Regions from separate parts of the Homo sapiens genome. Here region 2 is linked to region 1. The links come from fine-mapping of genetic effects on gene expression. A gene starts in region 1. The other region holds a variant in brackets. All regions are shown on one strand. Distances are from middle to middle.

What was found. PIP is the estimated chance that this variant, and not a neighbour inherited with it, causes the effect. A credible set is the group of variants that fine-mapping cannot tell apart.
Region 2: its variant is the best candidate, but not a certain one, in a credible set for the expression of CACNG1 in lung (TOPMed, PIP 0.81).

The regions. Positions count from the first base shown.
Region 1 is chr17:67,042,016-67,047,387 of GRCh38, reverse strand. It overlaps CACNG1 (calcium voltage-gated channel auxiliary subunit gamma 1), which reads right to left and starts at 2,834. Exons shown (of 4, transcript NM_000727.4): 1 at 2,499-2,834. The coding sequence starts at 2,727.
Region 2 is chr17:66,949,891-66,955,262 of GRCh38, reverse strand. No RefSeq gene overlaps it. Among named protein-coding and RNA genes, the nearest start is that of CACNG4, 12 kb to the left of the region's middle. The variant T/C (reference allele first, on the strand shown) is at 3,094.

The DNA of each region.
Region 1 (5,372 bases):
CACAGAACTCACTGGTCCTCCTGAGATTCACCCATTTTTCTTGCTGGATTGCTGCAAGACTTTGGTTAATTTCCAGAGTTCTGAAAATGTTGATTCTGACCATTTCTGCCAGCCTTCTCATTACTATTATGGAGAAGATTATTTTTGGAGGTTCTTTTTCTATCATTTTTTTTCCTGATGTCTTTCAAAGTTAATATATGTAAAGCGTTTACAACAATATTTGGCACACAGGGCTACATGTATGTGCCATTATTATTATTGTTGTTAATAATAGATGACGGGCCACATATGAACCCACTTCCTCCCTCCAGAGAAGAGTGGTCCCAGGGAGCACAAGAAGGGCAGATGGGGAAGGAGAAAGATGTCCATTTGCAGAGAAAAGAGAGGGAAAAAGGCAGGAACATATTTTGGAAGATTACTGGGGGAAAGGTAGTGCTCAGTGTCACAAGTGTGGGAGGTGTGGTTCATAGCTGGTTAGGCTAAGAAGGCAAAGAGGTAGATCCTGTCAGGCTCAAGGCCAAGCAATGCCTGTTGGCCCCCTGCAATTGGTCCAGTCACCTCTCACCAGCCTGTCTCTTCCTTGTGTGGATTCTGCTCACTGCCCAGTCTTCTGCTCTGACTTTAAAAGGCAGATGGTTCCAAGGACGGGTGAACAGGACTGTAACAGCACGTCCCCATGTGTGGTCCCTGAAGAAGCTGCCTTGCCCTGCCCTGCCCTGCCCTGCCCTGCCCAGGGGAGTTGGCTGGAGGCTGTTCCTGTTTATGGGTGTGCTCAGCAGTGGCCAAGGGGCATGGGCATCCGGGCTATGCGATACCCTGCAAGCACATGGCCACACCTGTCACTCTCAGCCCTGGGACTTGGTGTTTCTACAACAGCTGGGCACTTATGAGTCTTCTGGGCCTCCAGTGGGGCTGAACAAGGGAGGGGATCTCTGGAGCAAGCAGGAGGGAAGGAAGAGGGAGCAGAGACAAGGGAGGATGGGGTCTGTGCTCTTTGCCTCACAAGCAGACTGCAAGATCTTTGGGGACTTAGCCCTAGTGTCCTTGAAGGACAGGTTTCAAGGAACACCTAGTCTGATAAAAGAGGAAATAATCCTGAAAACCAGGTGGGACATCACACTGACATCACTCTGCTCCACTGCCACTGTGGATGGGCGTCTGTAAGCCGAGGAAGGGATCTCACGTTGCTGAGAGTCAGTCCCATATTTTATAGAGGAAGAAGCAGAGGCTGAGATGAGCTTTGTCCTCCCTGGATGGTCATTTGAGGGTAGTGGGCAATGGCGATTAGATCCCTGGCTGCCTGGTCTCCATGAGCACTCTTTCCTCTAAAGTGCTGTATTTGCTAAGAATCCAGAAGCCTCTGCATTTGCAGAATAGAGGCTAGTCACGCGACTACCAGGTACTCCTGAAAAGGACCTTACCTTCAACGTGTGGTTCGGTCACACGGTAGGAAATCGAGGAATACGCTTAAATTACAGGGTGAGGAAATGCTTTGTAACTCTGACAGGGTCTGAGCTAAGACAGGATGCATAGAGGACTGAAGTCCTGACAAAAGGACAGGTGGAGGTCGGGCATGGTGGCTCACGTCTGTAATCCCAGCACTCTGGGAGGCCAAGGCAGGTGGATCACCTGAGGTCAGGAGTTCGAGACCAGCCTGACCAACATGGTGAAACCCCGTCTCTACTGAAAGTACAAAAATTAGATGGGTGTGGTGGTGCATGCCTGTAATCCCAGCTACTGGGGAAGCTGAGGCAGGAGAATCGCTTGAGTCCAGGAGGCAGAAGTTGCAGGGAGCCAAGATCATGCCACTGCACTCCAGCCTGAGCGACAAAGTTGTCTCAAAAAAAAAAAAAAAAAAAAAAAGAAGGTGGGGGCAGGTGGCTCACCTACAGCCTACAGCCATGTCCTGCTTCACAGACATTCAACCTGTGCAGCTGCTCCAGGCCCAGAGCCCACAAGGGCCCATGTGTGGTTTCATGTGCTGCTGTCACTGCCTTGAAATCCTTGGTAATTTGGAGCAAGGAACCCTGCATTTTCATTCTGCACAGGACCCTGCAAATTCCATCGCCTATGCTCTCTCCTCTCCTGCCTTGAGGCCAGGAACAAACCTGCCAGCCCCATGGGTCCCCCTAGCCTGAGGACACAGAGCCACCTAGCTTTTCTTTGCAGGGAGAGAGTGAGCAGGTGGGGCCCAGAAGTCCCTGGGCTGGTAGAGCTGCAGTTCCTTTCTTGAGCCTGCCCAGCTCTCTGCTCTGGGCAAAAAGCCCCAAGGTCCAGCCAGACAGAAATAGCTGGGACAAACGCCCTCGTCTTACAACCCAGCCCCAGCCACCAGCACCACACATGCAATTCATATCTTCTTCCCTGGGCAGAAAAGGCTGGGCGGCTGCCCTATTTCTAGGCAGAGAAACCTGCCTTCCTTCGCAAGGGCAACTTTGCCAGGGGGATGACGGGGAAGAGCAGGAGGTGGGGATCGGGACGGAGGGTGGGTACGTTACCCCCGGGCAGGGTGATGGGCCCGCAGGTCTTGCTGTCGTCCATGGGGATGCGCTTGGTACAAATCCGCCAGAGGCCGAAGTGGGCCGCCTCGCAGGTAGTGTTGTGGTGCTCCATGTGGGGGCTCAGCACAGCCCAGTGGTCGGTTACCACGGCTGTCATGGCCAGCACGATGCCTGCCAGGATGCAGAAGAGGGTCACGCGGACCTTCAGCATTTTGGTCTGGGACATGGTGGTCGCCGAGGCGTGGGTGCCCTGGGCAGGGTCCGGCGGCTGCGTCTCCTAGGGCAGGTGACAAGCCGAGCTTGGGGGGTGGCAGTGGTTGTCGAGCTGGGAGTGGCCACTAAGTTTAGTGTGCCTGGCTGAGCCAGAGTGGGCTGGCCTTGGGGCCGAGGGACGCGGGACGTGCTGAGCAGCTGCCCAGACGCGTCAGGGGCCTGAGGGAGGCTGCTATTAATGCCCATCTCCAGGCGTGGCACCGAGGACAGCTTCTGCTCGGGTTTCAGGGTTTTCTGCCCCTCTGGGAGCCAGAAATACCCCAGTGCGGCGGGGCAGGGTGGCAAGGAGAGAAGGCTCTGGATGGTAGATTGAGGCCTCTGTGAGTAGCAGCTCAGGGTGCCTGAGTTGGGAGAGGGCGAGAGGTGGGCAGCAGGGCCCCGGGGGTGGGGATCTGCCTGCTCTGGGCTGATGGGAAAGGGCAGCCCAGGCCAGGGGAGGAGACCAGGAGCTGCGGGCTGCACGGCTGTCCCGGGCTCCCACGGGGTAAGCCTGTTACCGGCAGGGCAGTGAGTAGGTTCTCATCCTGGGATCTGAGGGGCTAGGATTCTGTCTAATGACATCCCGGGAACCCAGTCCAGGGCCTGTGGAGTCCACCTCTTAGGCAAGCGTTTTAGCCACAAACCCCACGGCATCCCCCAAACCATAGGAAGGTTTTAGGTGGTTCCCAGGTCTGGCCTTACCCAACTCTGATCCCTCCACGAGAACATTACTTCCTTTTCAATTCTCTTTCCATCCCCAAAACTGGGTCCAGAGCAAAGCTCTGTTCGAGGTCAGTGTCATTATTGCCTGTAAAGTGTCCTTTGAAACAAAGCGAGAACGGCCCGAAGAGGACGAGGAATCCTGCTGGACTTGGTCATTCTGTTTTTCAGGGCACTGTTTGGTTTTGCCTTCTATTAACAGCAGGTGATAACGACTTTCCAGTTATGTTTGAATTTGAAAAATAAGTGTGTGAGTAAAAAAGAATGAATAGGTTGATTTATAGGGGATCATTAGGAGCTCATGGGCGTGCAGAGAACACAGAAAGCCCGGGATCGACCACCCTCCGACGGTCCTGTGCACCCGCCTGGCCCCCAGGCTGGTCTCCGAGGCTCCAGCCTCTACATCTCTCCTGGGTTGTGTCATCTCTTCCTTCTCGGCTCACAGGGTGGCCCTTTTTGGGTGTAGCCGAGAGGCTGACGCATGACCAGGAATAGCCTCCTGAGCTGGGTGGGGCCTTGAGCTTCAAAATCCTGGCCTCAGATTGACACGATTTACAGAGACTCTGCCCATGTGGACAGAAATGTTTCGGCCTCCAGCCTTAGAATCACAGAAAGTTCATGATGATGATAATCAGAACAGTGGCTCATCTTCAGTGAGTGCTTACTATCTACCAGGTACCCTGCTAAGCCTTCATCCATTGTCACAGTTACTCTTCACACCAATCCACAAGGGGACTACAACGGTTACTGCCATTTCACAGACAAGGACATGGAAGCTCAGAGACATGAAGTCACTTGTCCAAGGTCACACAGCGAGAAAATGAGGAATCCAGGTTTCAGGACCCAGAGCCCAAAGTCATAACGAATGGTTGGAACTGGGAAGAAACTTCATGATCTATTGTGACAGATTAGGAATCTGCAGCCCAGAGAGGAGATGTGAGGAGCCAGGACTACCTGGTGAACAGCCCCAGGGCTGAGCTGAACCCTCGCATCTCCAGCCACTGGCTTGTGCTTATTGCAGTTCCATCCAAACTTCCATATTTTTAAAATCAGTCTCTCATACATATTACAATCTCCTGAGAGCTTATCTCCCCACTGTTCTCATCTCTGCTTCCCTTCCTCCCTGTCCCCCCACCTCTGTGTTCCCTGTGGGTGCTAATCCATCACAACTGACTGATCACTGACTGACTGTTGACATATGCCACCGCCCCTGCTTCAGCTCGTGGAGAAACTGCCTGTCACCAGGTGGGTAGACCATCTCCATGGGGAATTCCCAGAAGCTGGGACATGGCTGCAGCCTCTGAGCCCTCTCTTGTTGTTTGTGGGGGCCCAGCTTCAGGATCCTGGCACCTGGGGATCTCAGGAGGTGCTGTACAGCTTGATTAGACCTACTGAGTGCCAGGCACCCAGCAAAGCAGTAGCTGGGGAGCCAGAAGAGGGTTCCAGTGTTTTAAGACAGAAAATCTAGAAAGAAGCTATTTAATTTTAGCATTACAAGTAAATACAGTGTCATTGGAAAAATGAAAGTGTCTTTTGAATTTCCTGGTGTGGTGGGGGTGGATGCCCTAAGCTCTTCGGTGCCAAGAGCCTCTGACGGCCTTGGAAAGCACCCTGAAAGGGCCCAGCCCAGAGGGTGCACCCAGCGCCAGCCATGATGACATTGCAGGCCCTTCAAAGATGCCAGGCCTTGGTGAGGACAGCAACCAGGAACTTCTGCTGCTCTTTCCCTCCATGGGGGGCAGGTTTGTGCCCCATGCAGGGGTCCAGAGTCCTCCGCCCCAGTGCAGTGAAAGCATTAAAGATTGATGGCCTCTGCCTTTTGAAGTCATCTTTGTGTAAGTCGCACCAGGAGACCCGCAGCTGCAGCTACTGCGGGCAGGTCCACTTTCTCTTCCCTGT
Region 2 (5,372 bases), 92 kb after region 1:
ATCTGCCCACCTTAGCCTCCCAAAGTGCTGGGATTACAGGTGTGAGCCACCGCACCCGGCCTCAGAGAGATATTCTTTGACTGGTGCTGTATCTGTTGGGAGTGTCATCACCTGGGGAGTGGTATGGCCCATGACTCAATTGCCCTCTTGCAGCCTTGGTACCCAGAGGTAAGGACTGAATTGCCCTCTTGCAGCCTTGGTACCCAGAGGTGAGACCTTGAGGCTGTTCTGCAGGTAAGGGAGGTAACAGTTCCAAGGTCCCAGTTCTGTGCATGGCTGGAAGCAGCTGCCTGGCCGGCTGCCTTGCTGGGCTGCTCTGCATACTCAACACCAGCAGTCTCTTGTCCTGGAAGATGGGTTCGTGATGGAAGATGATTAATAGCAGCTTGACTTTGTTAAACAGTTACATGTGCTGGGCACCCTAGGACAAGAAAAATGTTGTTATCCCCATTTTAGAGATGGTGCAACTGAGGCTTTGGGAAGGCAAGTAACTGATTCCAGGTCACAGCAAGTAAGTGAAAGAGCAAGGACTCCAGTCTAGGACTGCCTGTGTCCAGGGGACATAGTCTTCCCATAGCTCAATAGTTTTCAACCCCGGATGCCCTTGGCAATGACTTGGGAGATTTTAGAAATATATGCCCCACTCTCAGGTATTCTGACCATGCTGGAGTGGGGCTGGGCATTGATATTTTTTGAAGCTCCCCAGTGGTTGCTGATGGGCAGCCCAGGCAAGATCAAGGGCACAAAGCCATGATGCCTTTGGACCCAAGATCTCCTGGAAAGTGTTTGATTTTCACCAGAATTCATCTTTGGCAGATACAGCCTGGCTCAGACTCTGGTAACTATCAAGGAATGTGGGGCTGGGGGTTCCTGGATCCATTTGGCTGGCTCTGCCACAGTGAGTACAGAAGACAGCAGTTAAGCTGGTGTGACCTGGGAGATTCCATAAGGTTCTTATTGCTACCTCTAGCCCTGCTGCCCAGCCAACTCTCTCTGTCCCCGGTGTGGGTCACACTGTCCCCAAAGGTGGGAAATGCCCATCAGGGAGAATGAGGGAGGCCTCTGGCTCTGCCTTTAGAAGGCTTCCTGGGAGGGGAGAGCTTGAGATGCAGGGGCCAAGCCAGCACCCTCTCCTTTACCAACTTGTCCCACTGGGAATTGTCGCTGAAGAAGACTCTTAGAGGCTGCCGTGGAGAACTGGTCACCACCCAGGTGGTTTACCTGGGGAGCTGGGGAGCTTTGGCATCAGACCAGAAGACTTGAAGGGTGAGAGTGAGAGAGAGGCTGGTGGGGGTGCCTGTGAGGTCCTGTATCCTGGCTGCTCTCTTGGGATGCTCCAGCCCCATCCCTGGGAGCATCACAGAGCCAGGACCGGAGGCTGCCAGCCTGTGGCTCCTCCTCCCTCTTCCTCGGCCAATTCCCAGCAAACCACCCGCTGTACTTGCCAACGGAGCCAGATGCTGCTTTGGGGAAAATACCTTCTGGAGTTTGTTGTCTGAGCCCTCCTAGCTGACACCCACGGTGGAGAAGACGTGTCAGGATAAATGGAAAATCTCTTCATAAATATTTGAAAAAAAGGCAAAAAGGAAAAGAAAAAAAGAATACCCCCCAACTCCCAGCGTTTGGGAGCATCTTCATGATTGTGGTACCAGATGGAGGAAGCAGGTCATTAGCGTTCATCAATTTGTAGTGGGATCCCAGCAAGAGGGCCTTTCTGCGGCTGCAGCCAGGAGCCCCGTGCTCGGCTCCTGGGACTGCGGGCACCAAGGGGCGCCTTGGCTTGCTCTGTGTGCCCAGGGGAGGGACAGGCCTGCTGGAGCCTCTGATGGGAGCCGTGGGGCAAGCACAGATGCCCAGCTGGCTGGCGGGGGAGGGTGACCTGCCCTTTATCCATAATGCATAATTGTGTCTTTAAACCCAGCTGCTTTGGGACTTGATTACAATTGGAGCTCAGGAGCAAGTAGCTTTTAGGGGAGCCCCTGGGAGACGAGTGAAGAGGCCCCGGGGGGTTGAGGTGCTAAGTGGATAGTGCTGGTGCCCACACAATGTGGGGAGAGCAGCACACCCCAGCAGGAAGGCCCAGGGGATGGGGACCTGCCTCCCAGAGAGGGGCTCAGCTGGGGAGACAGGACACTTTCATGCTGAGGCAGCAGTCAGGAGTCCCAAGGCCCCTGTGGAAAAGGGCCCTTCTCAGGTCTGGTGATCAAAGAAACTCAGCACCCAGGGAGAGCACTTGGCCTTGCTCGTGACAGCCCCAGTTCCTGCCATGTGCATCCCTGTGTGTTCCTGGAGCCGGAGCTGCTGCTCTCAGTCCCAGGAGAGCCTGGCCTTTGGGCTCCTCAGACACTTTTCTGCTTGTCCCCCTGCAATGTCACTTGCCTTCCTCCAGGGTCTGGTCCTTGCCTGTCTTGGATCAGGACAGGCAGACTCTTCATACTGGAGGGGGGGATGGTCAGCCGGGCAGGGCCTGGGATGGGGCAGGGTCTCTAGGAGACAAAACCTTGCAGAAAACCTTCATAGGTAGAGAGAAGTCGGGTTCCTAAGACTAAGTGTTGGTGGCTGTGGTCAGCTTGTAAAGGCAGACGTGTTCTGAGGCCTTCGAAGGGTGCCATGTACCCCTCAAAGGTCCCCTCTGCCCTGGACCTCTCTGCCTGGATTGTGGGGCACACAGACAAACCTCCCACTTTTTGACCCCCTGTAGTTTCCAGAGGGGGTGGCCCTCATTGCAGGGTGGCAGTGTGGAGAGGAGGCTGCCTGTGACCTAAGGTGTGTATGGCAGGATGGGAGGTCATAGCAAGCTTGACCAAGATGTTTAGAGCAGCATTTGTTGACCTGCCTCCTGCTCCATGCTGGAAATATTCATTGCTTCTGGAAGGAGGTAGACCGGCCAGGCAGGATGCCTGAGAGGGGTGCGGGCCTGGAGGTCGCGCTGTGCCGCCTGGCTCAGTGATGGTATTTATTTATCTGTCTCTGCCTTGGCTGGCAGAGGCATAAGAATGGCTTCAGCCTCGAGGCTGGATTGCTGTTCACCTTTGGAATGTTAAGTCCGCTTTTAACTATGACTCAGCTTCTCTTCAGTTTATTCACTGTGAG[T/C]CACCTACCTGACATGCTGTGTTATGGACGCATCCCTAAATGACCAACTTAGAGAAACTGGCGGTGAATACAAACAGCTACCACAGAAGGCTGGTTGAAAAGCCAGGGCTTTGTTCTCTGACCCAGCGTTTGAGTTACACTTGGTTCTCCAATCAACCAGAAATCGCCGGGTACTCACTCATTCATTTTCTCAGTTGGTGGATGAAGTGGGTTGAATTGTGACCACCCAAAAAGTATGCCTGAGTCCTAATGCCCAGAGCCTGCAAATGTGGCCTTATTTGGAAAAAGCGTTTTTGCAGCTGTAACCAAGTTAAAGATCTTGAGATGAGATCATCCTCAATTAGGGTAGGCCCTAGGTCCAATGACAAGTGTCCTTAGGAGAGAAGGGGAAAAGACACACAGAGGAGAAAGCAGAGATTGGAGCAAGGTGCCAGCAAGCCCAGGAGCACCGCAGACTACCAACAGCCCCCAAACTGAGGGAGAGTCGCGGAACAGGTTTTTCCTAGAGCTTCCTCAAGGAACCAACCCTATCTGCACCTGGATTTCAGCCTTCTGACTTCCAGAACTGTGAGAAAATATGTTTCTTTTTTTTTTTTTAAGCCATCCGGTAATTAGTTACTGCAACCCTAGGAAATGAATACAGTGGCTATCCGAGGGCCTTCCGGTGCCAGGCACTGTGAGCACTACTCAGAATGGAGCTGTGGGCTGGGCACTGTGGCTCATGCCTGTAGTCCCAGCACTTTGGGTGGCCGAGGTGAAAGGATGGCTTGAGCCCAGGAGTTCCAGGCTGCAGTAAGCTGAGATTGCACCACTGCACTCCAGCCTGGGTGATGGAGCAAGGCCCTGTTTCAAAAAAAAAAAAAAAAAAAATACAGCAGTGAACTGTGTAGGTGTGACCCCAGCCTTCATGGAACCTCCCATTCAGAGAGGGAGACAGACTCAAAAGGGGAATTGCATAAAGAGGAATTGCATGACAAGGCTTCTGAGCAGGAGGCAGGTGCCATGGAGTCTATTTCCTCCTTCCAAACCTACTCCTTCTCCAGCTTCTCCATCTCAGTACAGCACCACCATTGGCCTGTGGCTCAGGCCACAGACCACAGGCAACTCATCACCAGATCCTGCCAGTGTTATGTCCAAGATGCATTTCTACCCTGTCCACTGTTCCCTGTCTTGCTGCCGCCTCCTGGCCAGGCCACCTGCTTCTCTCCTCTGGATGCCTGGAAAACCCTCCTCCAGCGACACTGTCCTTCTCCTTCACAATTGCCACCTACATTCCCTCAATGCGTTCTCTCCTTGGCAGCCAGAGGATCTGTGCAAATGTCAATTACTTCACTTGTCTGCTGAAAACCATGTCAGAGAGTCTTCCCGTGCACTGAGGGTCAATATGAATGCCCACACCTGGCCTGTCCTATGTGATCTGGTCCTTACCTGCAACTGCACCTTGAGCTCAGGTTCCCTTTTCCCTGAGAGGCTGCCACACTGGCCACTGTCCCTCCCTCCAATCTACCAAGCTCCTTTCCAGCTCAGAGAGAGTTCTTCTTTCTCTCAGGTCTCAATTCTTGGTTTCAAGTTCAAGTTCAGTCTCAAGTTCAATCTCAGCTGAAACATCACCTTCTCAGAGAGGCTGTTCCAGACCAGTAGTCTGGATGGCGTGCTCCTCTCTTCATAGCTCTCACCCCCATAATCAACATCAGGATTTGCATGTCAGTGTGTCTTTGCATGTCAGCCTGTCTTTCTCATACCTGGCAAACTCCAGGAGGGACCCAGGTCTGTTTTGTTCAATTCTGAAACTCCACCACCTAACGCATAGGGCCTGGCATACAGAAATGCTCAATAAATTATTCGTTGAGTGAAAAAGTAAATGAATATATTTTCTGAGCTATATGGTGAGGAGAGGAGTAAAGAAGAACCAACACTTGTATGGTAAACGCCGCAGCTCCCGAGATCCTACAAGTTTGATATGACAGCAGAGTTGGAAATGTAATTACTTTGTTTTTCTCTCTCTTCCAAATGCCTTGTTTTTAAAGTTGGGTGTTTTGTGTTTTTTTTTCCCCCCTGTGTTAAGTAAATGTGTGTATTAACCCTAAGGCAGCAGAAAAGGAAGGGTTTGCAGGCTTAGTGAAAGCATGCTGCAAAAGTCAGACCCCAAGAAGGGAAAAGTTCCCATCAAATAGAACATCTGAGGGAAGTTAAAATGCACTTGCAGAAATAAATTGGTTGCTGTAGCAACCAGCTCTAGTTCTCCCCCAGAATAAAAACACAGAAAGAGGAGGGGAGGA